Linked DNA regions of Homo sapiens. The protein of the gene in region 1 interacts with the protein of each later gene in a pairwise test. Each region holds a gene or a part of one and is shown in the gene's direction. Other genes may lie near its edges. The genes, in order: RNF216, TLR9, USP5 and KHNYN.

Region 1 (7,259 bases):
TCCGAGATTGTGCCACTGCACTCCAGCCTGGGTGACAGAGCGAGACTCCGTCTCAAAAATAATAATAATTTTAAAAAAAGAAACTGAGGTGCTGAAAAATATCTAGTCCCAAAACTTGTAAGGGTCAGCGTGGAACTTGAACTCAGTTTGGACCCAGAGTTCATGCCACTAATTATCCTTCTATAATTAGTGAGTGCTATTTATTCTGAAAGTACATCTACTATTGAAGATCATCTACTGTGCCATCCGATATGCTATGTCCTGGGGCTTTGGGATCAAGTGACACTTTGGTTCTGCCTTCTTGGAACTTAAGTTTTAGCAGAGGAGACCAAAATTACACATAGTTTCCTAAATAAGTATATTAAAGTATTGTTGGAAGTACTTTGAAGAAATGAGGTACGTTGTGTGATTGAACCAGGGAGGAACATCTAGGGGATAATCAGGAACAATTTTTCTCTGAGGAGAAAGCAAAGAACCGAACAATGAATAGAGTTAATTTGGTCCAAGAGGCAGTGAAGAAGAGTAGTTTAGCTGGGGAAGAGCCTGCAGTGGAAGGAAGGAGCAAGTCATGGAACTGAACCATTGTTACTACTGAATGGTGAATGCGGGGGGAAAAGGTATGAGGTAAGGCCCGCTATGTCAGCAAGGTCAGGTGATGGTAGCGTTTTGTAGGCCATGGTAAGGATTTCGGTTTCACCATGGTGAGATTTGTGGTTTAAAAGAAATAACTCAAATGCCGTATGAAAACATGTCAAGGGATGGAGCCTGCAAGGCAGTACTTGGGCTAGAAGCAGAAGCATGTCCTTTGGTCACAGAAGATTCAGTTCTAAAAAGATCGTTGAAAACGTTGATTTTACCCTCCACACATGAGGATGTACTTACTTATCTGTCCTAGTTTCTAAACTAATTTTCATTGGACAGTTGAAGAAAATCTTGATGTTTTATGTTAAATTGTTTAGCCCGCCCACTGAAGATTTTGAGTTTAATTTTTGATTTAAAACCTTTCCTATTGTAAAAATACACAGATAATAGGATTCTTAGAGCTGTTAAACTCTAGACTAATTGTTTGCATATTTATATCCATAATGATGGATGTTATTTTACCATATTTTGTCCACATATTAAAGTTAACACAATTTTCGTTTTCTTTCTCTGAACTCATCATCTGCTTTGTTCTTCCTTAATAGCATCACCATCCTGTGGTCACCTGATCTCAGCGTCTAGGTCAACTTTGATTCCTTTCTTCTTGCCCTGATGGCCAGTGACATACACAGATCCCATCGACTCTAACTCTGCAGTCAGTGTCTTGTATTCTTCTCCTCCCCCTAGGTACTGTTGGCTCTTGTTTCCTGGCACCGGTTGTCTCCTACATGCCATCTTACACATTGCAGCCAGGTTGATTTTTCTAAAGCACAGCTGTCATTGCATTGCTTCCCATTGGCTAGAAAATAAAATCTGAGCTCTGTTTCAGTTATCTGTTGATGTATAACAAACCACCCTAATACTTACTGCTTCATAGAATAATTTTGTTTGTTGACAGTTTTATGAATCAGGAGAATTGAGAAGTGCTCACCTGGGCCATTTTTCTCTGGTCGACATGTTGTCAGCAGAGGTGGCCAGTGCTGGAGCATCCGCTTCCACAATGTCTTCTTCGTTCACATGCCTTGTCAAAGACTGCTGGAAGGCCGGGCTCCACTGGCTCTTTCCCTCCACGTGTAGTGTCAGGTCTTTCTGTGTGATCTCTCAGCAGGGTATTCAGACTTTTTACCTGATGACTCTGGGCCCAGGAGCCCTAAGTGAAAGCTGTTGTGCTCACTCGCTCTTTCTCTTCCTTTCTTTCACTTTCTTTTTCTTTCTTTCTTTCTTTTTTTCTCTCTCTCTCTCTTTTTCTCTCTCTCTTTTTTTTTTTTTTTTTTGGACAGAGTCTCCCTCTGTCGCACAGGCTGGAGTGCAGTGGCACAATATCAGCTCACTGCAACCTCCTCCTCCCAGGTTCAAGCCATTCTTGTGCCTCAGCCTCCAGAGTAACAGGGATTACAGGCATGAGCCACCACACCCAGCTAATTTTTGTATTTTTTTAGTAGAGTCAGGGGCTGCTGTGCTTTTAAAGGATAAACCCAGATCTGACACGTCTCTCACTTTAGCTTGATATGGCTATTCCTGTGAAACCTTCACTGACTACCTGCCCTTCCCCTATAGTCTTTTTTTTTTTTTTTTTTTTGAGACGGAGTCTTGCTCTGTCGCCCAGGCTAGAGTGCAGTGGCCCGATCTTAGCTCACTGCAAGCTCCGCCTCCCGGGTTCTCGCCATTCTCCTGCCTCAGCCTCCTGAGTAGCTAGGACTACAGGCGCCCGCCACCACGCCTGGCTAATTTTTTTGTGCTTTTTTTTTTTTTTAAGTAGAGACGGGGTTTCACCGTGTTAGCCAGGATGGTCTCCGTCTCCTGACCTCGTGATCCGCCCGCCTTGGCCTCCCAAAGTGCTGGGATTACAGGCTTGAGCCACCGTGCCCGGCTATAGTCTCTTTATTACACTAGTGACTTTATTCTCTGATTGATGGGACTCTGAGTTCTTTGAGACAAAATCCATTTGAGAGTTTGTTTTGATGTATTCCCGATGATGCATAACCAATTCTTGTTACATAAAATGCTGTAGCAGTACAGTCAGCTCTCCATATCCACAGCTTTCACATATGGATATGGAGAGCTAACAGTAAACTTTTTCTGTATTGATTTAATATTAATTGTATTAGTACAGACTTACAAAAGGATGGATATCCAAAGAATGGTTAGGATGAGCAACTGGTATTTGAATGAAAAACAATCGTTTATAGACATTTTTAAAAACATGCTGGGAAGAGGTATTGTGGAGGCCTGGTGTGACACGGGCATGTCATCTTCTTCCAGCCTGTGCCTAGCTCTGCTTTGCCCACTTTTTCTTTTTTTTTTTGAGATGGAATCTCGCTCTGTCACCCAGGCAGGAGTGCAGTGGCGCATTCTAGGCTCACTGCAAGCTTTGCATCCCGGGTTCAAGCATTTCTCCTGCCTCAGCCTCCCGAGTAGCTGGGACTACAGGTGCCTGCAACCACGCCTGGCTAGTTTTTGTATTTTTAGTAGAGACAGGTTTTACCGTGTTGGCCAGGCTGGTCTTGAACTCCTGACCTCAAATAATCCACTCACCTCGGCCTCTCAAAGTTTTGGGATTACAGGTGTGAGCCACTGCACCTGGCCTGCTTTGCCCACTTTTTGCTGGGAAGTCAAAGGGATTAACTCATTAAATTTGAAAGTCTTTAGTGACCCCCAAATCTGTTGCAGAAGTGGCAGGCATATTTACAGGAAGTATTCTGGAGAGCCAGGGGCACTACAGAGCCCTAGGATCATACAGTAGTAGTTTAGGAGCATATACATAAGGAAAAATGGAGAAGCAGCATGAATAGAACAAGGAGAAAAAAATGATTTGTAGAAGACAGCCTCAAGCATTCTGGTCACGAGGAAGTGAAGGTGAGATTTTGAAAACCAGAAAATTGGGTGAGAGAACCGTGAGCGATTCTCTTTTCTTCCTGACTTCCTTTGTTTCCCATATTTTCTGTAATGGGCAATACTTGATAACTGAAGAAAATCCTAATTGTTGTTGCCTAGGCCATGTTTCCTGACTCTGGTTCTATGGCCATGGTGAATAACAGCTCCAGTCTTTGACAGAGGAAGAAGTTTTTGGAGCCACTCGTTCAACAACTGTGCTAGGCATTGGAAATACAACTATAAGTAAGAAAAGAGGCCAGGCACAGTGACTTACGACTGTAATCTCACCACTTTGGTGAGTGTCGGGGGGGTGGATCACCTGAGGTCGGCATTTCAAGACCAACCTAAGATGGCGAAACCTCATCTCTACTAAAAATATAAAATTAGCTGGGCATGGTGGCAACATGCCTGTAACTTGGGAGGCTGAGACAGGAGAATCACTTGAACTCTGGAGGGGATGTTGCAGTGAACTGAGATTGCACCATTGCACTCCAGCCTGGGCAACAAGAGCAAAACTTCGTCTCAATAAAAAAAAAAAAAGTAACTTGGAATGGGAAAATAAAGATTTTTTCCCCCCTTGAACTGTATTTTATTAATAAGCACTGCATTTCCTGTGTACTTGTGATTACAATGCAGCTATTTTGATGGTATTTACCATATACAAAGTGGCTTCTCATTTTTCAACATAGCCTTGTAATGTAAGAATAGCTATTTTGATTTTTCTGTTTCGCAGGTAACAGTTAATAAAAATAGCACAATGTCACACTTAGTATATATCAGGCACTGTGCTAAAACTTCATGTAATTCAACTGATTTAGTTTTTAAAAAGTTTTTATTTTTTAAAATTAATGAATTTTTTTGGAGGTAGGTTCTCCCTCTGCCGCCTATGCTGGAGTGCAATGGTGCTATCATAGCTTACTTGCAGCATTGAACTCCTGGGCTCAAAGGATTCTCTTGCTTCAGCAACCACAGTAAAGCTGGGACTTGGGCACATGCCACTCTACCTACCCGCAACTAATTTTAAAACAACTGTATTCTCATTTTACAAATGAGGAAATTGGCCTAGGAGATTGAACAATTTATCTGGAGCCACCGATTGACTAAATGGGAAACCAAGATTTAAACATAGGCAGTATTATCCGAAGCCCAGATTAAAAGACTTGAGTGTCAGAGAGTTAAATGACCTGATACAGAGACTTACATTTAGTTAAGAGTAGAAATTCCATCATCAGAATTCTTTTCTTCTCACAGGTTGGGGCCACTGGTGTGCCACTCATGAGGAATTTTTTGAACCGTTACTAGCAGTCTGCTTAACTACAAGCCTGACATTTCAACTAAATTAGCTGTAAAAATGACTCACATCTCCCTTTGATTTTCAGTGTAAAATTGAAGGAAGCCAGTTGTGGTCAAAGAAAAAATAAGAAATTTGGCTTGGGGCCAGGCACGGTGACTCGCCTGTTATCCCAGGACTTTGGGAGGCTGAGGCAGGCAGATCACTGAAGTCAGGAGTTCAAGATCAGCCTGGCCAACATGACAAAACCACTTCTCTACTAAAAATACAAAAATTAACCAGCATGGTGGCACGCATGTGTCGTCCCAGCTACTCAGGGAGGCTGAGGCAGGAGAATCGCTTGAACCTGGGAGACGGAGGTTGCAGTGAGCTGAGATCGTGCCACTGCACTCCAGCCTGGGTGACAAAGCAAGATTCCGTCTCAAAATTTGGCTTGAAAATAGTGTTCAAAATACTTTTTAAAAATCTGGCTGGGTGTGGTGGCTCACTCCTGTAATCTCAGCACTTTGGGAGACCAAGGCGGGGAAATCACGAGGTCAGGAGTTTGAAACCAGCCTGGCCAACATGGTGAAACATTGTCTCTACTAAAAATACAAAAAACTAGCTTGTTTGGTGGCGGGCACCCTTAATCCCAGCTATTCTGGAGGTTGAGGCAGAAGAATCGCTTGAACCCAGGAGGTGGAGGTTGCAGTGAGCTGAGATTGCACCACTGCACTCCAGCCCAGGTGACAGTGGGAGACTCTGTCTCAAAAAAAAAAAAAATCTTATTTGGGGAAAAAAAAGGACTTGATTAGATGCAGTTCAAATTTGATACCAGAGCTGTTCTTTTAAATACCATGCTACTTATTAATAACATCAATATCATTATTTCAAATGAGAGACCCAAACTTACGCTGATATATGTCAGTTTTAAAAGTGGGAATACCTGGGGCCAGGCATGGTGGCTCATGCCTGTAATCCCACCACTGTGGGAGGCTGAGGCGTGTGGATCACCAGAGGTCAGTAGTTCGAGACTAGCCTGGCCAACATGGTGAAACCCTGTGTCTACTAAAAAATACAAAAATTAGCCAGACATGGTGGCGCATGCCTGTAATCCCAGCTACTCGGGAGGGTGAGGCAGGAGAATTGCTTGAACCCGGGATGCAGAGGGTTGCAGTGAGCCGAGATCGTGCCATTGCACTCTAGCCTGGATGACAAGAGCGAAACTCTGTCTCAAAAAAAAAAAAAAAAAAAGGAATATCTTTTTTCAGTTATCAATGCTAGAAATTTCTGTTGTAAAACTTTGCTAACCTGGTTTTGATATCTGTATATTTTGATAGTATCTATAACTTCACATTCTATAAGTTGAGAAAATGCTGATATTATTTGACTATTAACTCTTTGTAGACATTTAATGAGAAGCCCCGATCTGGGGCTTACTGCCTCTGAGGCACAGTGGTTTCTCCCAGGAAGGCAAAGAAAATTGAGATTTTCTCAGAGAGGAAGGAAAGGATTGAATCGCTTAAACCTGGGAGATGGAAGTTGCAGTAAGCCGAGATCGCACCACTGCACTCCAGCCTGGGTGACACAGCAAGAAGCACATTTAAATCTTGTGTTTATAGTAATTTGGTGTTTGTGGAGATTCTTTCTTGTCTAGTTTTTTTGTAACTGTTGTCCATGGAATTTTTTCTGTTACTATGTAAGAATTTGAGGAGATTCAAAGACTATTCTGCTGTTACTACTACTGTCTTCCCAGAATTTCCTTGTGGTTTTATTTTATTTTACTTTATTTTATTGGGACGGAGTTTCACTCTTGTTGCCCAGGCTGGAGTGCAATGGCTTGATCTCGGCTCACCGCAACCTCCACCTCCCGGGTTCAAACGATTCTCCTGCCTCAGCGTCCTGAGTAGCTGGGATTACAGGCATGGGCCACCATGCCCAGCTAATTTTGTATTTTTAGTAGAGACAGGGTTTCTCCATGTTGGTCAGGCTGGTCTCGAACTCCTGAGCTCAGGTGATCCACCCGCCTCGGCCTTCCAAAGTGCTGGGATTACAGGCGTGAGCCACCACGCCCGGCCCCTTGTGGTTTTAGTTTACATTTCTCTGATGTCTCATAATGTTGGACACTTTTTCATTTATTTATTGGCCTTTTGCGTTTCCTCGGGGTACTCAGCCGTTGTTAATTCAAATTGTTTGCCCCATTTTTCCTTTGGGCAGATGTTTTTTGGTGGGGGGACAGGGTTTCACTCCCATTGCCCAGGCTGGAATGCAGTGGCGGGATCACAGCCTACTGCAACCTCCACCTCTCGAGCTCAAGAGATCTTCCCACCTCAGCCTCCTGAGTAGCTGGGACTAGGTGCCCGCTACTGCGCCTGGCTAAATTTTTTTGCTTTTTTTGTAGAAATGGGTTTTGCCATGTTGTCCAGGCTGGTCTCAGACTCCTGAGCTCAAGTGATCTGCCTGCCTTGGCCTT
Region 2 (7,961 bases), on another chromosome or scaffold:
ATTCCGCCCTCCACCCATACCCCTGGGGTCACACTGACCCCTCAGCCCCGAGGCCCTTCCTGTCAGAGATCCCCTCTGTTGTCTCCTTGACCACCCCGTTTCCCTAGGCAGGGTCCTTCTGCCCTGGCTGTTCCGGCTGCCGCTTTCAAGCAAAACGGCTCCTCCCTTCCAAGATGCTTCCGCCAGAGGCCTTGCCTCTGAGGATGGGCTGGCCCAGTGGCAGTATCTCCCTGAGGTTGTGACCCTCCACACCATCCTGTCCCAGGAGTCACTACCGTTGACTACCCTTGGTGGGAGTTCCTTCTCTAGCACAACCTTCAAAGGGGCAGAGTTGGGGCTGGGCCCAGGACTGGCCTCTTCAGAGGGACCCCCATAGAGGGATGGCCATTGCAGGGGAGTCTTGGGAGAGGGAGGTCACATCAGGCTCCTGCCCACCAGCTAATCCTGTTTGAGGGCTTCCTGGGGAGAGGGGCCTGGGCCCACCCCGACCTGGTGCTCTCCCATCTTCCCTTGGCCCTGGGCAGAAGCTGGACCTAGAGCGGGAAACCATTGAGCTGGTGCACACAGAGCCCACGGATGTGGCCCAGCTGCCCTCCCGGGTGCCCCGAGATGCTGCCCGCTACCACTTCTTCCTCTACAAGCACACCCATGAGGGCGACCCCCTTGAGTCTGTAGGTGAGTGGCCATGGCAGGGCTCCCAAGCCTGTGGCTGGGTGGGAGCAGGGCTGGTCTGCAGTGGGGCAGGCCTGCTCTGGGTGCGAAGGTCAGCAGGTTTCTCAGGCCTCCCAGGCTCACCTCCTGCCCCCCAACAGTGTTCATCTACTCCATGCCGGGGTACAAGTGCAGCATCAAGGAGCGAATGCTCTACTCCAGCTGCAAGAGCCGCCTCCTCGACTCCGTGGAGCAGGACTTCCATCTGGAGATCGCCAAGAAAGTAGGCGCCCTCCCCAGGGCCTCACCTCCCCAGGCCCTATCACTCCAATCTCCATGTGGGGCGCTGGGGTCCTGAGATGACGGCAGAGCAGGAATCGTTGCTGTCGTGTTGATCATAGGGCATCTGAGGCCCAAGGAGCAACACGCATGGCCCAAGGCTGCCCAGCTGATCGGTGGCTCAGAAAAGTCCAAGTCCTGGCTACCATGTCATGTCCTTTCCCTGGGCCTGGAGACAGGGAGGAGGTGACCCCAGCGAGCAGAGTCCAAGGCATGCAGGGCAGCAGGCCCTAAGCTCTTGCTTTCCTGGGAGTGGCATTCCAGGTGGGGAATCAAGGGGAGACCTCAGGAGACCCCAGGGCTAGGATGTGAGAGTAAGGGGTGCCCCAGGAGTGGGGGCTACCAGGGGTGGTGTGTGTCAGAGCCCCTCCCATTGGGGTGACCACTGCCTTGCCCCATGCAGATTGAGATTGGCGATGGGGCAGAGCTGACGGCAGAGTTCCTCTACGACGAGGTGCACCCCAAGCAACACGCCTTCAAGCAGGCCTTCGCCAAGCCCAAGGGCCCAGGGGGCAAGCGGGGCCATAAGCGCCTCATCCGCGGCCCGGGTGAAAATGGGGATGACAGCTAGGAGGCTGGAGCAGGGCCGGCCACGTGTGGACTGTGGGGCTGCCCACCTTCCGCTCCCTGCCACCATCCTCCTTCCTGGGCTCCAGGAAAGTGTTTCTGGGAGGTCAGGAGGGCTGGCAGCTGAACGCACTTGCAGCGTCCGAGGGCCACCGGGCTGGCATTTTGTGACCCTTCCCTGTTGCTGTCCCTGCATCTCGTCTGTGTGCCCAGGGTGTCCGGGGACCCTGCCTGGCTGGCTTAAGGGGGCTGGGTCAGGGGCCTGGCATGAACCTGGCCTCCCGGGGAGCTGAGACTAGGGTCCCAGCACAGCCCAGAAACCTTTGGCCACAAGAAGTGGGGTCAGTCAGGGCTGGGGCAGGGGTCACTGCAGTTTGGGATGGTTGAATGCTGTATTTTCTAAAGAATAAAATATTTTTAAATCAAGACTTGTGCTTGGCCCTGAGAGACCGCCTCTGGCCCTGGGAATTGGGCAGTCTTGTGCATATAACTGTCCTTTCCCAACAGGGGAGAGGGGAGTGCCGGCCTGCGAGGTGGAGCCCCAGCACTCCACCTCCAGGTGTGTGGGAGAGGCTGTGCCTGTGAGTGGGCGTGCAGCCTCACGCGGGTCTCCCAGTCAACAGGAGCCCTGCTGGAGAGGCAGGCGCGCCTCCACTGTGACATGAGGGATCTGCATATGGTCATTTGCTGAGGCTGCCGTAACAAATTACCACCAACTTAGTGGCTTCGAAGAAACTCAAATGTATTCTCTTACAGTTCTGGAGGCTGGAAGACTGAGATGGGTCTCACAGGGCCAAAGTTGAGGTGTTGGCAGGGCTGGCTGTGTCTGGGCCCCTCAGAAGAACCCATCTCCTGGCCTTTTCTGGCTGTATTCCTTGGCTTGGGGCCCCTTCCTCCACCTTCAAAGCCAGAGGTGACATCTCTGATTCTGCTTTCCTCAGCCTCTGGGCTCCCATGGCCTTTTGTAGTCGAATCTCCCTCTGTCTCCATTTCATAAGGGACATTGTAATTGCATTCACCCTCCCTGCCCCCACCACCTACCCCTGTCAAGATGGGTAACTTAATCACATCTGCGAAGTCGTTTTTGCCACACTGTGGGGTGTTGGGGTCACGTGTTTGCAGGTTTGGGGAATTAGGACAAGGATCTCTGAGAGGGACTTTATGCAGCCTCCCACATGGGATAAGGGCTCCTCCTCGAAGGCTTCCCAGCCTCCCTGGGCTGAGGCCAGGACAAGTTTTTCTGTGGACATCGATATCGGTGTCTCCAAGCTGAGTGTGTCCATGTGCGTGGGTCTGTACCTGTGTGTGCAGACCCCTCTGTCAGCTTACTGGCCTCTCTGGTTTTCTGCCTCCAAAGAAGGCAGGGCCACTGCTGGGTATGGGGGTCTGGGTCCCTGGTCCAAGGGACTCTGGGAAAGTCTCAGGCTTGGGGCTCCACAGGAGCCCGAGCTTTGGTGTATCCCTCTGAGAGGTGGATGGAGGGAATGAATGCAGGTGCCTTCCACCCCAGGCAGGCAGGAGTGGAAGCATGGGGTTGATGCCTGCAGCCCAGCTACTGAGTGGGCACTGCTCTCCTTCCTGGCTCAGGGCAACATTCTATCCCTGGCGCCTTTCTGAGCCCCTGCTCAAGCCCCTAGAATTGTAGAGAGGAGAGCCAGACTAGCTAAGACCCAGAGGAGGCTTGTCCTTGCCCAGCCGAAACATTGGCTCCCAGGTGGGCAGGAAGACGATGCCATCGCCCCCTGCTGCTGAGCCAGCCAGATGCCTGGCACTATGGAGCCTGCCTGCCATGATACCACCCAGAGTGGGCCTGGGGGGAGCAGGCTGGCAGATGTGCAGCCTTGCCTCCTCCCAGCAGCAACAATTCATTAATTCATTCATTCAGCCTTCACTCAGAAATACCCTCTCTGTGCCTGCCCAGAGCTGACTGCTGGGTGTACATAATTCAGCAGATATCAAGCACTTACTATGTGCTGGGCACTGTACTGGATCCTGGGGATGCAGATAAAAGATCACTGCCCTTAAGAAGCTGACATTCCAGCAGGGGAATAAGACGATATACAATAAACCATGAAAGATCAATGATCCGGTGTGCTAGCAGTTAAAAAATGTTAGGACAAAGAGAAACATAGACCAGGCAAAGGAGCTCAGGAGTGCCAGATCTGGGGTGGGAGGTTTGTAAGAAGGCTGGATGGCCCTGTTGAGAGGGTGACATGGGAGCAGAGACATAATGGAGGCAAAGGAGGGGTCATATGAGACTTGGGGGAGTTTTCAGGCAGAGGGAACAGCACATCCCAAGGCCCTGAGGCAGGAGAATGCCCAGGGGCTACACAGTCAACTGCAAGCAGGCCAGTGGGCCTGGAGAGCACTCAGGGGAACAGCGGGTGGCAGGTCCCATAGGGCCTTGTTGGCCATCTGTGGACTGTGGCTTTGACTCCAGAGTCAGCCAGGGAGGGGTCTGAGCAGAGGAGGGACCTAGTGTGACTTAGGTTTGAACAGTTCCCTCTAGGGGCTGAATGTGACCAGCCCCTGGAGGGCAGAGAGCAGGGCAGGACAGCCAGAAGGGAGGTGGCACCTGCATGGGTCTAGGAGAGAGGATGGGGGCTGGTGGACATGGGGACGGTGGGCTGTGGGCACACCCTTCAGCATGGTGGACCCAGCAGAACTTGCTGAGGGGCCCGGGGTCACCCAAGGCTTTGGGCCCGAGGAATCTGAGTCTCCTCACCTAGATCAGAAGGAGAGTGGGAAGAACTGATGGGGAGGACTGGCTGGCGGCCCTGCTGGGCCAGCACACACCTGGCCTCTAGGAGCCCCATCTGGAGTGACGTGGTGTGTGCTCTGATGGGGCCCCAGGGGCTCTGGGAATGTGGAGGAGGAGGTCTTGTTTCCGGAAGATGTTGCAAGGCTGTGGTGAAGGCAGGTGCAGCCTAGCCTCCTGCTCAAGCTACACCCTGGCCCTCCACGCATGAGGCCCTGCAGAACTCTGGAGATGGTGCCTACAAGGGCAGAAAAGGACAAGTCGGCAGCCGCTGTCCTGAGGGCACCAGCTGTGGTGCAGGAGCCAAGACCTGAGGGTGGAAGTGTCCTCTTAGAATGGGGAGTGCCCAGCAAGGTGTACCCGCTACTGGTGCTATCCAGAATTCCCATCTCTCCCTGCTCTCTGCCTGAGCTCTGGGCCTTAGCTCCTCCCTGGGCTTGGTAGAGGACAGGTGTGAGGCCCTCATGGGATGTAGGCTGTCTGAGAGGGGAGTGGAAAGAGGAAGGGGTGAAGGAGCTGTCTGCCATTTGACTATGCAAATGGCCTTTGACTCATGGGACCCTGTCCTCCTCACTGGGGGCAGGGTGGAGTGGAGGGGGAGCTACTAGGCTGGTATAAAAATCTTACTTCCTCTATTCTCTGAGCCGCTGCTGCCCCTGTGGGAAGGGACCTCGAGTGTGAAGCATCCTTCCCTGTAGCTGCTGTCCAGTCTGCCCGCCAGACCCTCTGGAGAAGCCCCTGCCCCCCAGCATGGTAGGACAACAGCTCTCAGTCCCCTGGGGAAGGGGATATCCTGGGAAGGGGTGGGGAAAGAAGTGGGCTTGGCAGCTGCAAGCAACAGTGACGGGTTGTCACCCACATGGCCCTGGGGACACTCACTGAATCCTGAAGACTTCAGAGCCGAAGCCCTCTTCTTTTTTCTTTTTTTTTTTTTTTGAGACGGAGTTTCGCTCTTGTTGCCCAGGCTGGAGTGCAGTGGCTTGATCTCAGCTCACTGCAATCTCCACCTCCCGGGTTCAAGTGATTCTCCTGCCTCAGCCTCCCAAGTAGCTGGGATTATGGCTTGCGCCACCATGCCTGGCTAATTTTGTATTTTTAGTAGAGCCAGGGTTTCTCCATGTTGGTCAGGCTGGTCTTGAACTCCAGACCTCAGGTGATCTGCCCACTTCGGCTTCCCAAACTGCTGGGATTACAGGTGTGAGCCACCGTGCCCAGCCACTGAAGCCCTCTTCTGAGCAATGAGACCCAAACCCCCAGAGGGGACGAGGAGACTGAGGCACTGATGGAGCTGGGGCTGGAGCCTGGGTTTGGGTCTCACTGGGCCTGTAGCTTGGGGCTGGCTCTGTCTGGCACTTTGCAGGCCACCCCTCTCTCCATCTGTTCTGACCCATAAGGCAAAGGCTCTCGGGCTAGGTGAGGCAGGCAGAGAGTGATGGAGCTGTGCAGTGCCCTCTGGCCAGGGTCCCTGGGAGGCAGCCGGCCTGGGCCATAGTGGGAGACTCTCACACCTGCCTGAATCTTGGCCGAAGGAAAAGGAAGGGGTTGTGGGGTGGCTGGTGGAGGGCAGAGAGCGGATTTCAGGGCAGCTGGAGGGGAGGGAGCCAGCTGCCACCTTGCTCAGGAGCAGGAAGGGAAAGTCGGGGAGAGACCAGGGGGGGCCGTGGGCCACCTTGCCTGGCCTGGTATAGCCAGGGATTGGTTAAGTGAAAGCTGTAGATCATAAGTCTGGATTCTAGGTCTCAGTCCTGGTTCTGAAGCCTAATTCTGAGTCCAAGACTGGGTCTGAGACTGAGTTCAGGTTCCCCACAAGCCATGGGGGATGGGAATGGGGCTTGGCAGCCAGGAAGAACTTCTGCAGGTAGGGCTTGGAGAGAGGGGTTGGAAGATGCTAGAAGATGCCCATGAAGTGGAGTGGGTGGAGGTAGAGCTGGGGGCCGGCCACTCACACAGCCCTCCCACCCCCACAGGGTTTCTGCCGCAGCGCCCTGCACCCGCTGTCTCTCCTGGTGCAGGCCATCATGCTGGCCATGACCCTGGCCCTGGGTACCTTGCCTGCCTTCCTACCCTGTGAGCTCCAGCCCCACGGCCTGGTGAACTGCAACTGGCTGTTCCTGAAGTCTGTGCCCCACTTCTCCATGGCAGCACCCCGTGGCAATGTCACCAGCCTTTCCTTGTCCTCCAACCGCATCCACCACCTCCATGATTCTGACTTTGCCCACCTGCCCAGCCTGCGGCATCTCAACCTCAAGTGGAACTGCCCGCCGGTTGGCCTCAGCCCCATGCACTTCCCCTGCCACATGACCATCGAGCCCAGCACCTTCTTGGCTGTGCCCACCCTGGAAGAGCTAAACCTGAGCTACAACAACATCATGACTGTGCCTGCGCTGCCCAAATCCCTCATATCCCTGTCCCTCAGCCATACCAACATCCTGATGCTAGACTCTGCCAGCCTCGCCGGCCTGCATGCCCTGCGCTTCCTATTCATGGACGGCAACTGTTATTACAAGAACCCCTGCAGGCAGGCACTGGAGGTGGCCCCGGGTGCCCTCCTTGGCCTGGGCAACCTCACCCACCTGTCACTCAAGTACAACAACCTCACTGTGGTGCCCCGCAACCTGCCTTCCAGCCTGGAGTATCTGCTGTTGTCCTACAACCGCATCGTCAAACTGGCGCCTGAGGACCTGGCCAATCTGACCGCCCTGCGTGTGCTCGATGTGGGCGGAAATTGCCGCCGCTGCGACCACGCTCCCAACCCCTGCATGGAGTGCCCTCGTCACTTCCCCCAGCTACATCCCGATACCTTCAGCCACCTGAGCCGTCTTGAAGGCCTGGTGTTGAAGGACAGTTCTCTCTCCTGGCTGAATGCCAGTTGGTTCCGTGGGCTGGGAAACCTCCGAGTGCTGGACCTGAGTGAGAACTTCCTCTACAAATGCATCACTAAAACCAAGGCCTTCCAGGGCCTAACACAGCTGCGCAAGCTTAACCTGTCCTTCAATTACCAAAAGAGGGTGTCCTTTGCCCACCTGTCTCTGGCCCCTTCCTTCGGGAGCCTGGTCGCCCTGAAGGAGCTGGACATGCACGGCATCTTCTTCCGCTCACTCGATGAGACCACGCTCCGGCCACTGGCCCGCCTGCCCATGCTCCAGACTCTGCGTCTGCAGATGAACTTCATCAACCAGGCCCAGCTCGGCATCTTCAGGGCCTTCCCTGGCCTGCGCTACGTGGACCTGTCGGACAACCGCATCAGCGGAGCTTCGGAGCTGACAGCCACCATGGGGGAGGCAGATGGAGGGGAGAAGGTCTGGCTGCAGCCTGGGGACCTTGCTCCGGCCCCAGTGGACACTCCCAGCTCTGAAGACTTCAGGCCCAACTGCAGCACCCTCAACTTCACCTTGGATCTGTCACGGAACAACCTGGTGACCGTGCAGCCGGAGATGTTTGCCCAGCTCTCGCACCTGCAGTGCCTGCGCCTGAGCCACAACTGCATCTCGCAGGCAGTCAATGGCTCCCAGTTCCTGCCGCTGACCGGTCTGCAGGTGCTAGACCTGTCCCACAATAAGCTGGACCTCTACCACGAGCACTCATTCACGGAGCTACCGCGACTGGAGGCCCTGGACCTCAGCTACAACAGCCAGCCCTTTGGCAT
Region 3 (7,259 bases), on another chromosome or scaffold:
ATCTGTTAGCCCCAGGATAGAGGTGAAGGAAGTCCTCTGTGATTGATTAAAGAGCTCCAAAGCCCAAGAAGGAGCAGGTGGAAAGATAAATGGTGACTGGTGTTGCTGTTGAATGGCGACGATGAGCTGGTGTTCCTCAGCCCCCTGATGTCCTTGTTGGTTGTTATCAAAGTCATGGGAGGAAATGGGGAGAATCTTAGCTATGTCCCAGGTCCTAAAAGGCTAAATAACTTGCCAAGGGCCACACAGTGTTAGAGAACAGAACATTTCTTCTGGAACCCAGCAGTTTCTGACTCCAGGTTTTGGTTTCCTCACCTGACCAGGCTTCATAACATCCTCGTGTTTTCACCCTTACCTCTTGTCCCACAGGAGTCTGAGGGGGGCCTCTACATCTGTATGAACACGTTTCTGGGCTTTGGGAAACAGTATGTGGAGAGACATTTCAATAAGACCGGCCAGCGAGTCTACTTGCACCTCCGGCGGACCCGGCGCCCGGTAGGAGCAGGGCTGGGGCAAGGCCTGGGTACATTGTCTGTTCCATTCTGACCTCCTATTGGACTCAGTTTCTTTTTTTCACCTACTTTTGTGTCATTAAAGCTTGGCACAGATGTTTTTTAGCTTTATTCCGTTCTGAGATGAAGCACTACCTCCTTCCGTCCCTCCTCCCGACTTGTTCCTTCGCTCGTGCTCATTGCTGATCCAGCCCTTCCTGCTTCTTTACAGAAAGAGGAGGACCCTGCTACAGGCACTGGAGACCCACCCCGGAAGAAGCCCACGCGGCTGGCTATTGGTGAGCACCGCTGCAGTCCTATTCTTCTCCCTGAGCTGGTCTTTCTGGCTCTCAGCAGCACCAGGAAAGCCCCAAAGAGTGGGCCTGATTGATGGCCCTAGAACTCTGGATGGGGCAAGTGAGGTGCTGGCTCGGAGGAGGGACATTGACCTGTTGTCATTGCTCTACTCTCCCTCTTCTTCCCTATCCTTCCAGGTGTTGAAGGCGGATTTGACCTTAGCGAGGAGAAGTTTGAATTAGACGAGGATGTGAAGATTGTCATTTTGCCAGATTACCTGGAGATTGCCCGGGATGGACTGGGGGGACTGCCTGACATTGTCAGAGATCGGGTATGACTGCCCCCTATGCTACCCAAGATTCTAGAGCAAGATGGGCCAGGGTAGTGGTGTCTTAGGCAAGCACTGACAAAGCTGAAGGCCAAGGGGAAGAGGGGCATGTGGGGCAGGGGGTTGGGTATTGCCTCTGACCCTCTGCTTCCCCCAGGTGACCAGTGCAGTGGAGGCCCTACTGTCGGCCGACTCAGCCTCCCGCAAGCAGGAGGTGCAGGCATGGGATGGGGAAGTACGGCAGGTGTCTAAGCATGCCTTCAGCCTCAAGCAGTTGGACAACCCTGCTCGAATCCCTCCCTGGTGAGGCCTGGCCCCTCTGCCTCGGGCACCACCCCCAGAGCAAGGACAAGGAGCCCACTTTTCTGGGGGATCTGGTGGGAGAGAGGGTAGGGAGCAGGACAGGAAGGGAAGCTTGGAAATGAACACGACATGGGGATGGCCAGAGGAGAAGAGAGAGAGACCTTGGATTGGCGGGGGGCCTGCAGAGCCCTCTCTCTCTGCCACTCCCTCAAATCCCCGACCCACATTTCTGCTGATTCTCTTCTCTGTGGGTTAGTGGCTGGAAGTGCTCCAAGTGTGACATGAGAGAGAACCTGTGGCTCAACCTGACTGATGGCTCCATCCTCTGTGGGCGACGCTACTTCGATGGCAGTGGGGGCAACAACCACGCTGTGGAGCACTACCGAGAGACAGGCTACCCGTTAGCTGTCAAGCTGGGCACCATCACCCCTGATGGAGCTGGTACAGCCTCCCCTCCTCCAGCCACTCTCATGCTTAAATATATTTCATTTGTTAGTAATTTCGTGTGACATGTATAATACATGAATGCATTATCTTGATAAGAAAGGAAAGTAGTCAGGTGCGGTGGCTCATGTTTGCAATCCCAACACTTTGGGAGGCCAAGGCAGGAGAATTGCTTGAGCCTAGGAGTTCGAGACCAGCCTGGGCAACATAGTGAGACCTCATCTCTCCAAAAAAGAAAAAAAAAGAAAAATTGGCTGGGTGTGGTAGCTCCTGCCTGTAGTCTCACCTACTCAGGAGGCTGAGGCAGGAGGATTGTTTGAGCACCCGGGAGGTTGAGGCTGCAGTGAGCTATGATTGCACCACTGGACTCCAGCCTGGGCTACAGAGACCCTGTCTCAAAAAAGGAAAATACTGCAGATGAGACTAAATTTTTGATTACTCCCCACTCAAATCCTCATCCCTTTCCTACCAAGCCTGTCTTACCTTATCCTATACAGGTAGAATCAGAATCACAAGTAATTCCAACCCTCACCCGGTTTCATCTGTCTTCCCTGACCGTCAGCCCCAGAAGGGCCATGACCGCACTCATATTACTCATATTCAAGGGAACCAAGAGGGTGGACCTTACTGGCTCTCCTTCTGTCCCCTCAAGTCCCTTCTGTGCAAGGGATGGGATGGTGGCCTGGCTAGTCCTGAGCCACTTCCCCTGATTCTCTTCCTGCCTCCTGCTCTAGACGTGTACTCATATGATGAGGATGACATGGTCCTGGACCCCAGCCTGGCTGAGCACCTGTCCCACTTCGGCATCGACATGCTGAAGATGCAGAAGGTGAGACCCCCTTCAACTTCAGATTCTTCTACTTCCTGCCCCTGTGAGGGCCCTTCCTCTTTGCCTGAGGCTGAGGTAGGGTTTTGGAGAAATCTTCTAGTTAACCCCATCCCCAAGATACACAGGCTTCTTTTAAATATCTAAAATCATTTATTCAGTGAATAGTACTGAGTACCTACTATGTGCTAGAGGCTGTGTGAATAAGACAGATGTGGTTTTTGCTTACAAGAGTTCTACTCTAGAAGAAAAGGCAGACATTAGTCACATTCCCAGATAAATAAGTGAATAGTTGCAAACTGGTGGGCACTGTGAAAGAGAGGCGGAGGGTACTACAGTAATTGACAGCAGGGTGGCCTGGCCTAGTTTAGGGATCAGGGACATTTCCCTGAGGAAGCGATGCTTAACTGACAATGTGAAGGAGGTTAGGGGTAACTTAAGGATGGGAAAAACATTTCAGGTAGAAGGAAATTTTATTCCTCATTCAAGCAGAGGCCCTGATGACTAACGGGCCTCTGGGACAATTATGTGTGGCCTTCCAGAACTTGAACTGGACGATACTCAACATACCTCCCATGTTTGAGCCTGTAATTCCACAAATTCTAGGCCACAGTTGAGTATCATCCTAGACTCAGTGAGAGATCGAGGTAAAAACTACAGGGTTGAGTTTCTCACTCAGTCTGAAGTGCCCCTTCTCACACAGACAGACAAGACGATGACTGAGTTGGAGATAGACATGAACCAGCGGATTGGTGAATGGGAGCTGATCCAGGAGTCAGGTGTGCCACTCAAGCCCCTGTTTGGGCCTGGCTACACAGGCATCCGGAACCTGGGTAACAGCTGCTACCTCAACTCTGTGGTCCAGGTGCTCTTCAGCATCCCTGACTTCCAGAGGAAGTGAGTAGTGCCCTCTCCTTCCCCAGGCCCCCTCCTGGTCAGCACCCTCTGGGCATACTCCTCCTTCAGCTTCCCTCAGCACCTCTGTGTTTGATTCTAGTCTTAGAGTAGTTCCTATCGGCTGGGTGTGTTGGCCCACACCCGTAATCCCAGTACTTCGGGAGGCCAAGATGGGAGAATTGCTTGAGCCCAGGAGGTTGAGACCAGCCTGGGCAACATAGCGAGACCCTGTCTTCTCTTAAAAAAAAAAAAGAATAATTCCTGTCACACTCTGGCTGACATGCTGTGAGGGGAGCAAGTTAGGGAGCTGCACCACCAGCACCCCAACACACAAACCCCACTGATAGTGCAGAGTGCCAAGTCCCAGGGCTCTGTGGCCTTCTGACAGACTCAAGGGTTAGCAGGTGGTCTTTATTTTAGGGCAGTGACATCAGATGAGCACCTAACATGGACATGTAGCACTTGGGGAGGAGGGGGGCTTGGCACACTAAGAATAAAGGCAGGTTCTCAGCAGAAATGAGTTTACTTTCGAATTTGGGGAACAATTAGAATGTGAATGCTCAGAACATGTCAACAGGTTCTGTCCAATAGAACGTGAACTGCACTTATCCTAATCCCAGGCTACCTTCCCCCTCCCCGGCTCCTCTGCCGCCGAGCGTGCTTGCACATTGGACATAGCTGAGAAGGGGAGAACAGGCAGGTTGCTGGAGAGAAGCGACTCCAAGGTTCACCCACAGCAACTCCCCACTCTTGAGGGGAGCCCGTTCACAGAGTTAGTAAATGTTTGCTTCCTTCCCTTTTCCTCGGCGCTCAGGCCAGAGCCCCTCCAACTGTCCTTCCCTTGACTTTTAGGTATGTGGATAAGCTGGAGAAGATCTTCCAGAATGCCCCGACGGACCCTACCCAGGATTTCAGCACCCAGGTGTATGTAACCAGGTCCTATGTAGGAAAGCTGTTGACAGTCATGGCCGTATACCTTCCTCCTCCCTGACCGCCTGGGGGGCACAGCACTTTAACCCCTGGCCTTTTTTTGTTTTGTTTTGTTTTGTTTTTTGAGACGGAGTCTTGTTCTGTTGCCAGGCTGGAGTGCAGTGGCGCGATCTCGGCTCACTACAACCTCTGCCTCCTGGGTTCAAGTGATTCTCCTGCCTCAGTCTCCTGAGTAGCTAGGACTACAGGCACATGCCACCACGCCCAGCTAAATTTTTTTTGTATTTTTAGTAGAGACGGGGTTTCATCATGTTGGCCAGGATGGTCTCGATCTCCTGACCTCGTGGTCTGCCCACCTCGGCCTCCCAAAGTGCTGGGATTACAGGCGTGAGCCACCGTGCACGGCCACCACTGGCCTATTAGGAGCATTCGGGTGACTGTCTTCTGGACGTGTTGTCTGTCTTGAGCTGGGTTCCTGTAGAATCTAAGGTTTTTCACGTTGTTGAGAGTTAGCTAGGGAGAGCCACGAGCAGGGGGTTGAGCTGGGGACACACAGGGTCGTTAGTTGACTGAAGTGAAATGTTTTCTTGGATATTAATGCAGGGCCAAGCTGGGCCATGGCCTTCTCTCCGGGGAGTATTCCAAGCCAGTACCGGAGTCGGGCGATGGGGAGCGGGTGCCAGAACAGAAGGTGCGTCTAGGACCCTGTCCCTTTCAGGCCCTGGGATTGTGGGGAAGCTGAGGTCTGGGAGATGTCTAAAGAAGGCCCCTGGATGGCCACTGAGCCCCAGCTGAGTCCCTGCCCTGACTCTTCCCAGGAAGTTCAAGATGGCATTGCCCCTCGGATGTTCAAGGCCCTCATCGGCAAGGGCCACCCTGAATTCTCCACCAACCGGCAGCAGGATGCCCAGGAGTTCTTCCTTCACCTTATCAACATGGTGGAGGTAAGGGCTGGCAAGATGGCACACCCCCATCTTCCTGCAATTTACTCGCTCTCCTTCCTGCCCATTTCTCCCTCTATCAGCCCCAACCCAGTCCCATCCCTGAACCCCAACAGTCTGTGTCCCTGTGAACAGTGCTTGCACCTGAGGAGGACAGTGAAGGTGATGATCCCTACCCTTGATGGGCTTGAAGCCCAATTCAGATTATGCCCAAAGACAATGATAAGAGAATACTTGCTGCTTATAAAGAAAAATACAAGCGTGTTCTAACACAGTCCCTCAGTGCAGGGATGGGGCCAGAAATGGGGAGGGGTTGGTGAATTAGGGAAGGTTTCTGCTCTGCTCTTGTGTCCCTGAGTTCCGAGTGGTAGTCTGCCTTCTCTCCCTGACTCTCCCATGAACCTTTCAGGCCCCATTCTGTTCCCTGGCTGCCCAGACCTCCCTACCCTGCCTCTTTCCCATAGAGGAATTGCCGGAGCTCTGAAAATCCTAATGAAGTGTTCCGCTTCTTGGTGGAGGAAAAGATCAAGTGCCTGGCCACAGAGAAGGTGAAGTACACCCAGCGAGTTGACTACATCATGCAGCTGCCTGTGCCCATGGATGCAGCCCTTAACAAAGGTAGGCTGCTCCATCAGCAAGGCCGTGGCACGGTGGGAGGCTAAGGTCTAGGAGGAATGCTTGGGCACCTCATGGGAGCACAGCCCAGGGAATGCCCTGCTTCACCAGCCAAGGTTCCAGTCTGGGCCACCAGGAGTAGGTAGATTAACCTCGTCCAGTGGACACTCAGCTTGTTAGCAGAGCTGCATGGAAACAGGCGAGATATATTGGACATGTGTCAGGGGTGCTTTGGAAGGGTAGAGGAACTGAAATACGGACACAGAGCCAGTAGGGAGAGGCTAAGGAGGCAAAGAAGCAGCACCCTCCGAAGGATCCACCAACCCATTCTGTCACCAGAGGAGCTTCTGGAGTACGAGGAGAAGAAGCGGCAAGCCGAAGAGGAGAAGATGGCACTGCCAGAACTGGTTCGGGCCCAGGTGCCCTTCAGCTCTTGCCTGGAGGCCTACGGGGCCCCTGAGCAGGTCGATGACTTCTGGAGCACGGCCCTGCAGGCCAAGTCAGTAGCTGTCAAGTAAGTCCTCTGGTCGGGGCCTGAGGCTGTGGGTCTATGGCAGAGCTATCCCAGAGGATACTTCTGTCTCTTCCCTGTTCTTTCATCCCTTTGTGGTTGGAACCTCAGGGTTGAATCAGTTGGGCTGGTAATCTGGCCCTGATGGAACCAAGGGGCCCTGGTAGGGGGGACACGGGTACTGACTCTATCTGTCACCTTGTCCTGCCCCAACCACTCCCTCTTCTGTGGCACAGGGTCTCTTTGTAGTGTAGCCTCTCTTCATTGCCCCTCAGTCATGGCTGAGCACAGGCACTTAGGATCAGCTGTGGGCAGAATTTGGATTTCCAGCAAATAGCCACACTTTGAGCCTAGCCATTGGCACCTGGCATGGGTGTGAGACCTGAAAAAGGGCTTTGGTCTCGGGGAGTCAGCTACCCAGCCCTTTGCTGCTCCTGCCAGTGAAACAGCTCTTCCTCTCTGTGTGGGTTTTTTTTTTTTTTCTATGTGTGGGTCTTGCTATGTTTTTTTCCCTACGTGTGGGTCTTGCTATGTTGCCCAGGTTGGTCTCTTAACTCCTGGGCTCAAGCAGTCGTCCTGCCTTGGCCTCCCAAAGTGCTGGAATTACAGATATGAGCCACCATGCCTGGGCTTTTTTCTTTTTCTTTTTTTTGTTGACAGCCTTCCTTCTGGCCTC
Region 4 (7,640 bases), on another chromosome or scaffold:
CCTTCCTCCTTCCTGTTAGGCTGATGTAATGTCTGGAGCTCAGGGAGCCGTCTTGGGTCATGAGGTGGCAAGCTAAGGATGGTAGAACAAGACAGAAGACTGGGCTTTCAAATGATCATAAGGCTGCCATCCATCCCTGGACTCTTATTTACAGATTTTTCTATGTGAGACAAAAATGATTTCCTATTTTGTTTAAGCTATTCTTATTTTGGGTTTTACTGTTACAGCCAAACCTACTCTTAATCATTTTGCCTAATTAATATCTCATTATAATTAGTGGGGTAATACAGAGGATCCATTTTCTAGGAGATGAACGATCAAGCCTGAGCAGTGAACAGTTGTCTTTTGGACATCTGACTAATCCATTGTCTTATAACACGCCATTGGACTGTTTTTCTTCTTAGTTGCAAAATATACTCAAATAGTTCCACCAGTATCTTTCATTCTTGGCACAGTGCCAGATCTTCTTGGAATTATTCACAGTTCTCTGTACTCACCCCTCCCTACTTACATAGATAAAGAAAAACAAATGTACCTTGCAAATAGACAAAATGCCTACTATATTTATGTTCTTGTACTTATCACGACTCACTAAAAATAGCCTATATTCACTCTTCTTCACTCAGCATATTAACTACTTTTTGTCACACTTTATAGTGACTTCTTCCTTTTTGAATATCATTGCAGGTACATGGATTTAAAAAATTCACCTTGTTCCAATTAACTGTATTATTTTCCTTTTGATAATCAAATTGTCAAAGCATGTCAAGTGGGAGCTTCTTTAAATTGATTCCTTTGCCTTTTCAGCTTTACTTTATACATTTAAAAAGTATCTTTGCTTTCTGTCATCAACAACATGTTCTGGGCCTGGAGTTACTTAAGGTGTGCAGCTATTCTCCAAGGAACCTGAGGGTTTTTGGTATTTTTTTTTAATGGTGACTAATATCTGAAGCAAAGATCCAGTTTCTAAGAATGGATATCAGATTGTTCCTGATGTTGTTTTTAGGATTAGTGACAGTTCAAAAAGTTATTTCTTTTCAAAACCACAAATTCACCTTGGTATTTCCTATTTAACTCAAACATTATTCAACTTTTAAAATGTAATTTTAGTATACAGTTTGATATTTATTTTCCTCTGCAACATACCTACTTGTACCTGTAACACCCGATCCAAACTCCAGAGGCATCTTCTCCTTAGTAATTCTATAGTGTCTCACTGACCACCATTCTCTAGTTGTTTTATTGATAGATTCATCCAGGCTGGGCCAATGGGACAGCGGGATAAGAAAGAGAGAGGGAGGGTTTAGCATACTGGCAGGAGAGGGTCTGAAGGAATGAATCATGGAATCCCAGGTAATAGGAAGCCTAAGGAGGAGAATAAGACAGCACAGATCAGGAGAAAGAGAGATAGTGGGGATATGCTGGAACAGGTACAGTGAAGATAACTCAGTGAGAGAGCTGGGAGGAAGGAGGCAGCAGTCAGAGTGTGGAGGGACTAAAGTTCAAACTTCAAAGGTGGAGCAGTTTCAGGAGGTGGCCAAGCAAGAGGATGCATGGTTATCGATGTTTTCCATGGTCCACTTCCAGCTCTGTATACCTGCTCTCAGCTCTGCTCTCAGCCAGAGCAAACACACTCACCCTAATCTCAGGTGGGGAGGTAAGGGCCAGAGTCCATCTGGGATCCAGCATAGAAGGACAGCCAGGATTGCTACCTGCTGGCTGCTCTGCTATACATGCAGAATGTGTACCATGTTCAGTCTAGACAATACACCCTCCTTCCTTCCTCACCAGCCACAGACTCCAGGCCCTTCCCACCCTTCTGCCTGTGGCTGAGCCTCCCACCCTAGCCCATACGGTGCTGGTTCAGCTTCTGACGGTGCTGGCTGAGATCCGTGATGCTGGCTTTCCTCACAGGAAGAAGCCTGCAGGGTACGCTGAGGCTTGTCCATCTGGGCTCCTGTGGGGGCCTGTCAGGCTCACCTGCGCCACCTGTCCCTGATCAGCATTGAGCAGGAAGCTGGGGTGGGGGAACCGGAGGAGCAGAGGCCGCAAAGTAGTGCAGATCTTCCTTCTTGCCAAACCTTGCCCTGATCCTAGGGCTGCAGGCAGGAACAGATGCAGCAGGTGGCTGGGAGGGTAACTGGGGGTGGGTGGGTGGAAAGGCCTGGTCTGGAGATGCCACAGCTCTACTCTTCTCTTAAACTTGGGTGTTTGGCACAGGGTCCCATGCAAAGAGGTGGGATAGGAGCCAGAGGGAGTCTCTCTCCTGCCTCTGCTGTTTCTGGGGCAAGAGAGGGCAGAAGAAAGTTGTCAGGGGCTGGATTCTTGTGCTTGAAAGACTTGGGTCCTCAGAGAGGGAAGATGAGGAAGCCAGAGAAACTTGAGTATTTCCAACCACCCAGTAGATTCCCCCGACGCAGGCGCAGAGACACTCGGTCCCCAGGGTCCAAGGGCAGTAGCACAGAGCTGGTGGCTGCCTCCCGGGTCACGTCAGGATCATTGGCAAAGGCTGAGATGACAGGCCACGTGTTCAGCATCAGGCTCACCTGGGGAGGGGAGCCCAGTTAGCCCCCATTCCCCAGCCCTTAGCTCAGGACCCCCCACTTTCCCAGGAGCTTCCTCTTGGGAAGCTGGGTTTTAATGGGCTCTCCCGGGAGGGCTGAGGGGCGGCCAGCATTGGACTCTGCACATCCTCCACACTCAATGCAAGGCAGGCCCATTCCTCCCCTGGTCCTGGCCTCCAGGACACAGGTCAATGGAGAGTCCACCCGGAGGTCAGCTGGGCTCCCCTTCTTCCCCCTCCCCACCCTCCTGAGCCGGGGATGGGGGCCAGTGCTGAGGTCACCTGGACAGTTTGGCGGTTGTACACCTTCACCACATGGAACCGGAAGCTGTAGACACCCCGGACAGGGGCTACGAAGGAGCCAGAGGCCCGGTCAAAGCCACCGCCCTCGTTCACCAGGACCTGGGGGAAGCAGAGCCTGCTGAGTGGGGCTCAGGAAATGCCCATGGCTCAGGGGTACCATGGGGACTAGGGGCAGGGGCAGTGAGTAATGAATAGAAGGAGTGGCAAGTAGGAGTGAATAGGAGTGAACAGATTCAAAAGAAATGGTGAGAAGGGGCAAGGAGAGGGCTGCGTATGGGTGGAGGGAGGGGAAACCGTCGGTGGGGTGGTGGGGCAATAGGCCAGATTAGTGAAAGATGTAGGAAGCTGTTTTCTTAAAGCCTCAGAGACAGCAAAGTGGGCTTGGACAGTTGCTTCCAGGTCCTTGCAGGGTCTTTCCAGGTCCCCTGGACAGGGGTAGGGGGATTACCTGGTCGAAGTAGATGGCCCCACTGGTGCCATTGCCGGTTTCCCCTGCTGGCTCATGGTGGTGGCTTCGGACCGCAGCAAATGCCACTCGCCCAGGGGGTGCCTCTCCCAGGGCTGCTCCCCCGGGCCCCCCTGCAGCAGCTCGGCCAGGCTCACAGACCACCAGGCACTCCCCCTCCAGCAGGACGGGCTCTGACCCCTCCTGGGCCCACCCGGCCCCCAGGGCCAGAAGCACCAGAACCAAGGGCAGCCCGGGACTGTGTAGGGGACCTGGTAGCCAGTGTGGCTTGGCTCCCAACATGGCTGAGGGGCTCTGCAACCCACAAGTGCCCCGGTCTTCTGCCCCTCTTCTGTTTCCGCTCCTCTCCCTGGATTCTCACCGCCGGCACCCTGATCGTCTGCCCTCTCTAGGCTCGCTGAACCCCCTCTCCATACCTGTGTCCCAGCTCTGTCCTGCCTCCCACTCTTACTCCTGCTGTCACTGCAGTTCCCTCCTCCTTGGCAGAGCATGCAGTGACAGCAGTTGGGCTTTGGGAGAGAAAGGAGGGATGAAGCCGCCTGCCCACTGGACGGGAGGGCTGCAGCCAGAGCTTCAGGGCAGCCCTGCTGGATGGGACAGCACTGAGGGCTGGACCTGGGGGGATGGAGAACATGGTATGTGTGTGTGACGGGTGTGACAGAATGTGTGAGTGTGTGCATATGCCAGAGGCAGCCCCTCAACCCCTTCCTCCTACTCTTCCTCTCTTCAAAATCCCCCACAAATCAACAGCCCTTCTTCGTGGCATCTTTCCGTTTGTTGGAAGAAAGGGGTACTCCACCACGGGTACCCTCCGCCTCCCGCCTCCCGCCTACCCCCTCCGCCACGATTGCTTTGGTGGAAAGTGCTTGGGCCTAGAGCACCAGTGGGCCAGTCACGCTGCCTCTTTGGTCGGCCACATCTTTATTCGCGGGAAACAACTTTCAACGCATGGTTCCCCTTTCCGAGAAGTAACTGCGCAGAATGCGCGAGGACCCTGAGGGCCGGGAGACAGACGGGAGGGCTGGTGAGAAGCGCAAGGGGCGAGCCCTGGAGCCGCCGAGGGGACTAGGCCGAGCGGGCCCGTCGGGGCCTCTGGGCGCGGCGGCGGGGTTGGGAGGAGGGCGCGCAGCCGGGAGGAGCTGGGCTGACTCCGCCCCAGGCCAGGAAGTGACTCAAGAAACAGTTTGCGTGCGATGTGGACAAGAGAGGTCCCCGCTGGGTGAGGAACCCGGGAAGGCCCGCCCAGATTCGGGCCCCCTGCCCTTGTCCCCTGGGCTGGGGGCGCGGGCAAAGCGGGGGCCTGGCGGGCGCTGAGAGGACCTGAAGCCGGCGCGGGCGGCGGAGGCGGTAGGCGCGCCCCTCCACCGCGCCCGGGAGCGGGGAGCGGGGGCCGCGGTGCGGAGTAGGCCCGGCCCGGGGTGGCTGCCCCAGTCCGCGGTGGGCGGGCCCGGCCCGGCCCGGCCCCTGGGCCCTGGGCGGTGCTCCTGGCCCGACGGAGAGGGGCAGCGGACGGCTGGGGGAGGGGTGGGAGTGGCTTGAACCTTGGAAATGGCAGACCAGGGCCCCCAGAGGACAGCCTAGTTCAATCCCCTGCTGAGGATTCGTCCTTAAGAAGCTTCAGAGTGCCCCAGGAGACTCCTTCTGGCCTCCAGGCCGAGCTGGAGCCCCCCCACCCTTCTTGCTCCGGACTGTGGTCATCCTTTTCCAAAGCCCAGACGCCCACTCTCGATAGACAGCCTTGTTTACCGGGACTTCCTCTCCGGAGAGGCCTGCGTGACATACACCCTCCCTACCTCCAGTGGACTCAGATGCTTGTCACCTCCTGGGGCTGTTTACCAGAGCCTTAACTAGGTGCGACCTGTTGATAGCTGGTGTAGTCCCAGGAACCAGGATTTGGATGGAGGGTACAATGAGGCTCTGAGCTGCCTTCTCCCCTTCCAGGGCTGGGGGCAGCAGCCATGCCTACCTGGGGGGCCCGCCCCGCGTCCCCAGATCGCTTTGCGGTGTCTGCGGAGGCTGAGAACAAGGTTCGGGAACAGCAGCCCCATGTGGAGCGCATCTTCAGCGTGGGGGTGAGCGTCCTTCCGAAGGACTGTCCGGACAACCCCCACATCTGGCTGCAGCTGGAGGGCCCCAAGGAAAACGCCAGCAGAGCCAAGGTGAACGCCTTCTCTCCCCCATCCCTCCAGGCACCAAGGACGCTTTCCCCCAGGGCGGAGGAGAGCAGGGCCGAGGAGAGCAGGGAAGAGGAGGGGCCTGGGGAGGATCTCCACTTCTTGGTTGTCTCACTGGCAACCTCAGTGCCCCTGAGTTTTGAGGGACTTTCCAACTCTATATTTGTTTTCAGTTTCAGCTTAATTTCTTCTGTGATGGCCCAGGCTGGCAAAAATCATTCTGTGCTCTTTGGGAGAATAGAGATATCTGGCTGAACAAGTTGGCCCCACCAAGGAATGCACTGTGGGGTGGGAGGCTGGGCCACATTGCTTCCTTTGGGATTAGGCTGGGGTTCCAGGATGGCTCAATCATGTACCAGCTTTGTGATGGGAGTCTCAGTTTCCTTATCTCTAAAATGGGAATAACATCATGTGGATACTCCAGACATCCTGGAGCTCAGGAGCGAGCAAGGAGCCAGGAGGGGTGATCTGGGCCAGTTAGTTTACTTTTCCTGACCTTCCCTTCCTCCCAACCAGGAGTACCTGAAGGGCCTCTGCAGCCCAGAACTGCAGGATGAAATCCACTACCCGCCCAAACTGCACTGCATCTTTCTGGGAGCCCAGGGCTTCTTCCTTGACTGCCTGGCCTGGAGCACGTCAGCCCATCTGGTGCCCAGGGCGCCAGGCTCACTGATGATCAGTGGCCTGACTGAAGCCTTTGTCATGGCTCAGAGCCGGGTAGAAGAGCTGGCAGAGCGGCTGAGCTGGGACTTCACGCCAGGACCATCTTCCGGAGCCTCTCAGTGTACTGGAGTGCTGAGAGACTTCTCTGCCCTGCTGCAGTCCCCGGGGGATGCCCATAGAGAGGCTCTGTTGCAGTTGCCCCTGGCTGTCCAGGAGGAGCTGCTGAGTCTGGTGCAGGAGGCGTCTAGTGGGCAGGGGCCAGGAGCACTGGCTTCTTGGGAGGGGCGGAGCTCAGCCTTGCTGGGTGCTCAGTGCCAAGGAGTGAGAGCTCCCCCTAGTGACGGCAGGGAGTCCCTGGACACTGGATCTATGGGACCCGGAGATTGCAGGGGAGCAAGGGGAGACACTTACGCTGTGGAGAAGGAGGGAGGGAAACAGGGTGGTCCCAGGGAGATGGATTGGGGGTGGAAGGAGTTGCCTGGGGAAGAGGCGTGGGAGAGAGAAGTGGCCCTCAGGCCACAGTCAGTGGGTGGAGGGGCAAGGGAGTCAGCACCCCTGAAAGGGAAGGCCCTGGGGAAGGAGGAGATAGCTCTGGGAGGAGGAGGGTTCTGTGTCCACCGTGAGCCTCCCGGTGCCCATGGCTCCTGTCACAGGGCAGCTCAGTCCCGAGGAGCCTCCCTCCTCCAGCGGCTCCACAATGGGAATGCCTCTCCTCCGAGGGTGCCCAGCCCTCCACCTGCACCGGAACCCCCATGGCACTGTGGAGACCGGGGTGACTGCGGAGACCGGGGAGACGTGGGGGACAGGGGAGACAAGCAGCAGGGCATGGCACGGGGTCGGGGGCCTCAATGGAAACGAGGCGCCCGAGGGGGCAACTTGGTGACTGGCACACAGCGTTTCAAGGAGGCCCTGCAGGATCCTTTCACCCTGTGCCTTGCCAATGTGCCTGGCCAGCCAGACCTCCGCCATATTGTCATTGACGGCAGCAACGTGGCCATGGTGTGAGTACCTGGTGGGGCTAAGGGCCTAGGAGAGGGAGGATATGTCCTGAGGGGCTGGCATTGTAGCCAGGGTGCCAAGCCCCTCCTCTGGCCGACCCCCTCCCACTACAGGCATGGCCTCCAGCACTACTTCTCCAGCCGGGGCATTGCCATTGCTGTGCAGTACTTCTGGGACCGTGGTCACCGTGACATAACTGTCTTTGTGCCTCAGTGGCGCTTCAGTAAGGATGCCAAAGTCAGAGGTGAGTTGGGCCTGGTCTTCAGTGTCCCAGGATAGGCTCTGTTTCCACTTTGAGGAGAACCCTATTATGTTCTTTTTCAATAGAGAGTCACTTCCTGCAAAAGCTGTATTCCCTCAGCCTGCTCTCCCTCACACCCTCACGAGTCATGGATGGCAAGAGGATCTCCTCCTATGATGACAGGTACTTGCTCCTCTCCTGGCCCCAGGCTTGATATTGAAGGAGCCCTAT

Evidence for each region.
Region 2: the proteins of RNF216 (region 1) and TLR9 interact in a two-hybrid assay, tested with the Homo sapiens proteins (one study listed by BioGRID).
Region 3: the proteins of RNF216 (region 1) and USP5 interact in binary tests that used the Homo sapiens proteins (3 or more experiments, as listed by UniProt).
Region 4: the proteins of RNF216 (region 1) and KHNYN interact in binary tests that used the Homo sapiens proteins (3 or more experiments, as listed by UniProt).

The regions. Positions count from the first base shown.
Region 1 is NC_000007.14:5,771,557-5,778,815, reverse strand, and holds part of RNF216 (E3 ubiquitin-protein ligase RNF216), read left to right. Parts: intron 1-152; exon of another isoform or gene 153-1,329; intron 1,330-7,259.
Region 2 is NC_000003.12:52,222,634-52,230,594, reverse strand, and holds the start of TLR9 (toll-like receptor 9 precursor), read left to right. Parts: upstream 1-4,949; 5' UTR 4,950-5,065; coding exon 5,066-5,068; intron 5,069-6,282; coding exon 6,283-7,961. Other genes in the region: TWF2 (twinfilin-2), read left to right, coding at 525-675, 813-934, 1,394-1,561.
Region 3 is NC_000012.12:6,855,032-6,862,290, forward strand, and holds part of USP5 (ubiquitin carboxyl-terminal hydrolase 5), read left to right. Parts: intron 1-323; exon of another isoform or gene 324-369; coding exon 370-495; intron 496-597; exon of another isoform or gene 598-723; coding exon 724-790; intron 791-985; coding exon 986-1,119; intron 1,120-1,273; coding exon 1,274-1,419; intron 1,420-1,675; coding exon 1,676-1,860; intron 1,861-2,597; coding exon 2,598-2,692; intron 2,693-3,392; coding exon 3,393-3,586; intron 3,587-4,438; coding exon 4,439-4,510; intron 4,511-5,119; coding exon 5,120-5,207; intron 5,208-5,334; coding exon 5,335-5,460; intron 5,461-5,921; coding exon 5,922-6,075; intron 6,076-6,411; coding exon 6,412-6,586; intron 6,587-7,259. UniProt on the Homo sapiens protein: Deubiquitinating enzyme that participates in a wide range of cellular processes by specifically cleaving isopeptide bonds between ubiquitin and substrate proteins or ubiquitin itself.
Region 4 is NC_000014.9:24,425,441-24,433,080, forward strand, and holds the start of KHNYN (protein KHNYN), read left to right. Parts: upstream 1-4,513; 5' UTR 4,514-4,679; exon of another isoform or gene 4,680-5,183; intron 5,184-5,273; coding exon of another isoform or gene 5,274-5,290; coding exon 5,291-5,491; intron 5,492-6,022; coding exon 6,023-7,170; intron 7,171-7,281; coding exon 7,282-7,412; intron 7,413-7,495; coding exon 7,496-7,592; intron 7,593-7,640. Other genes in the region: CBLN3 (cerebellin-3 precursor), read right to left, coding at 2,349-2,546, 2,846-2,965, 3,315-3,614.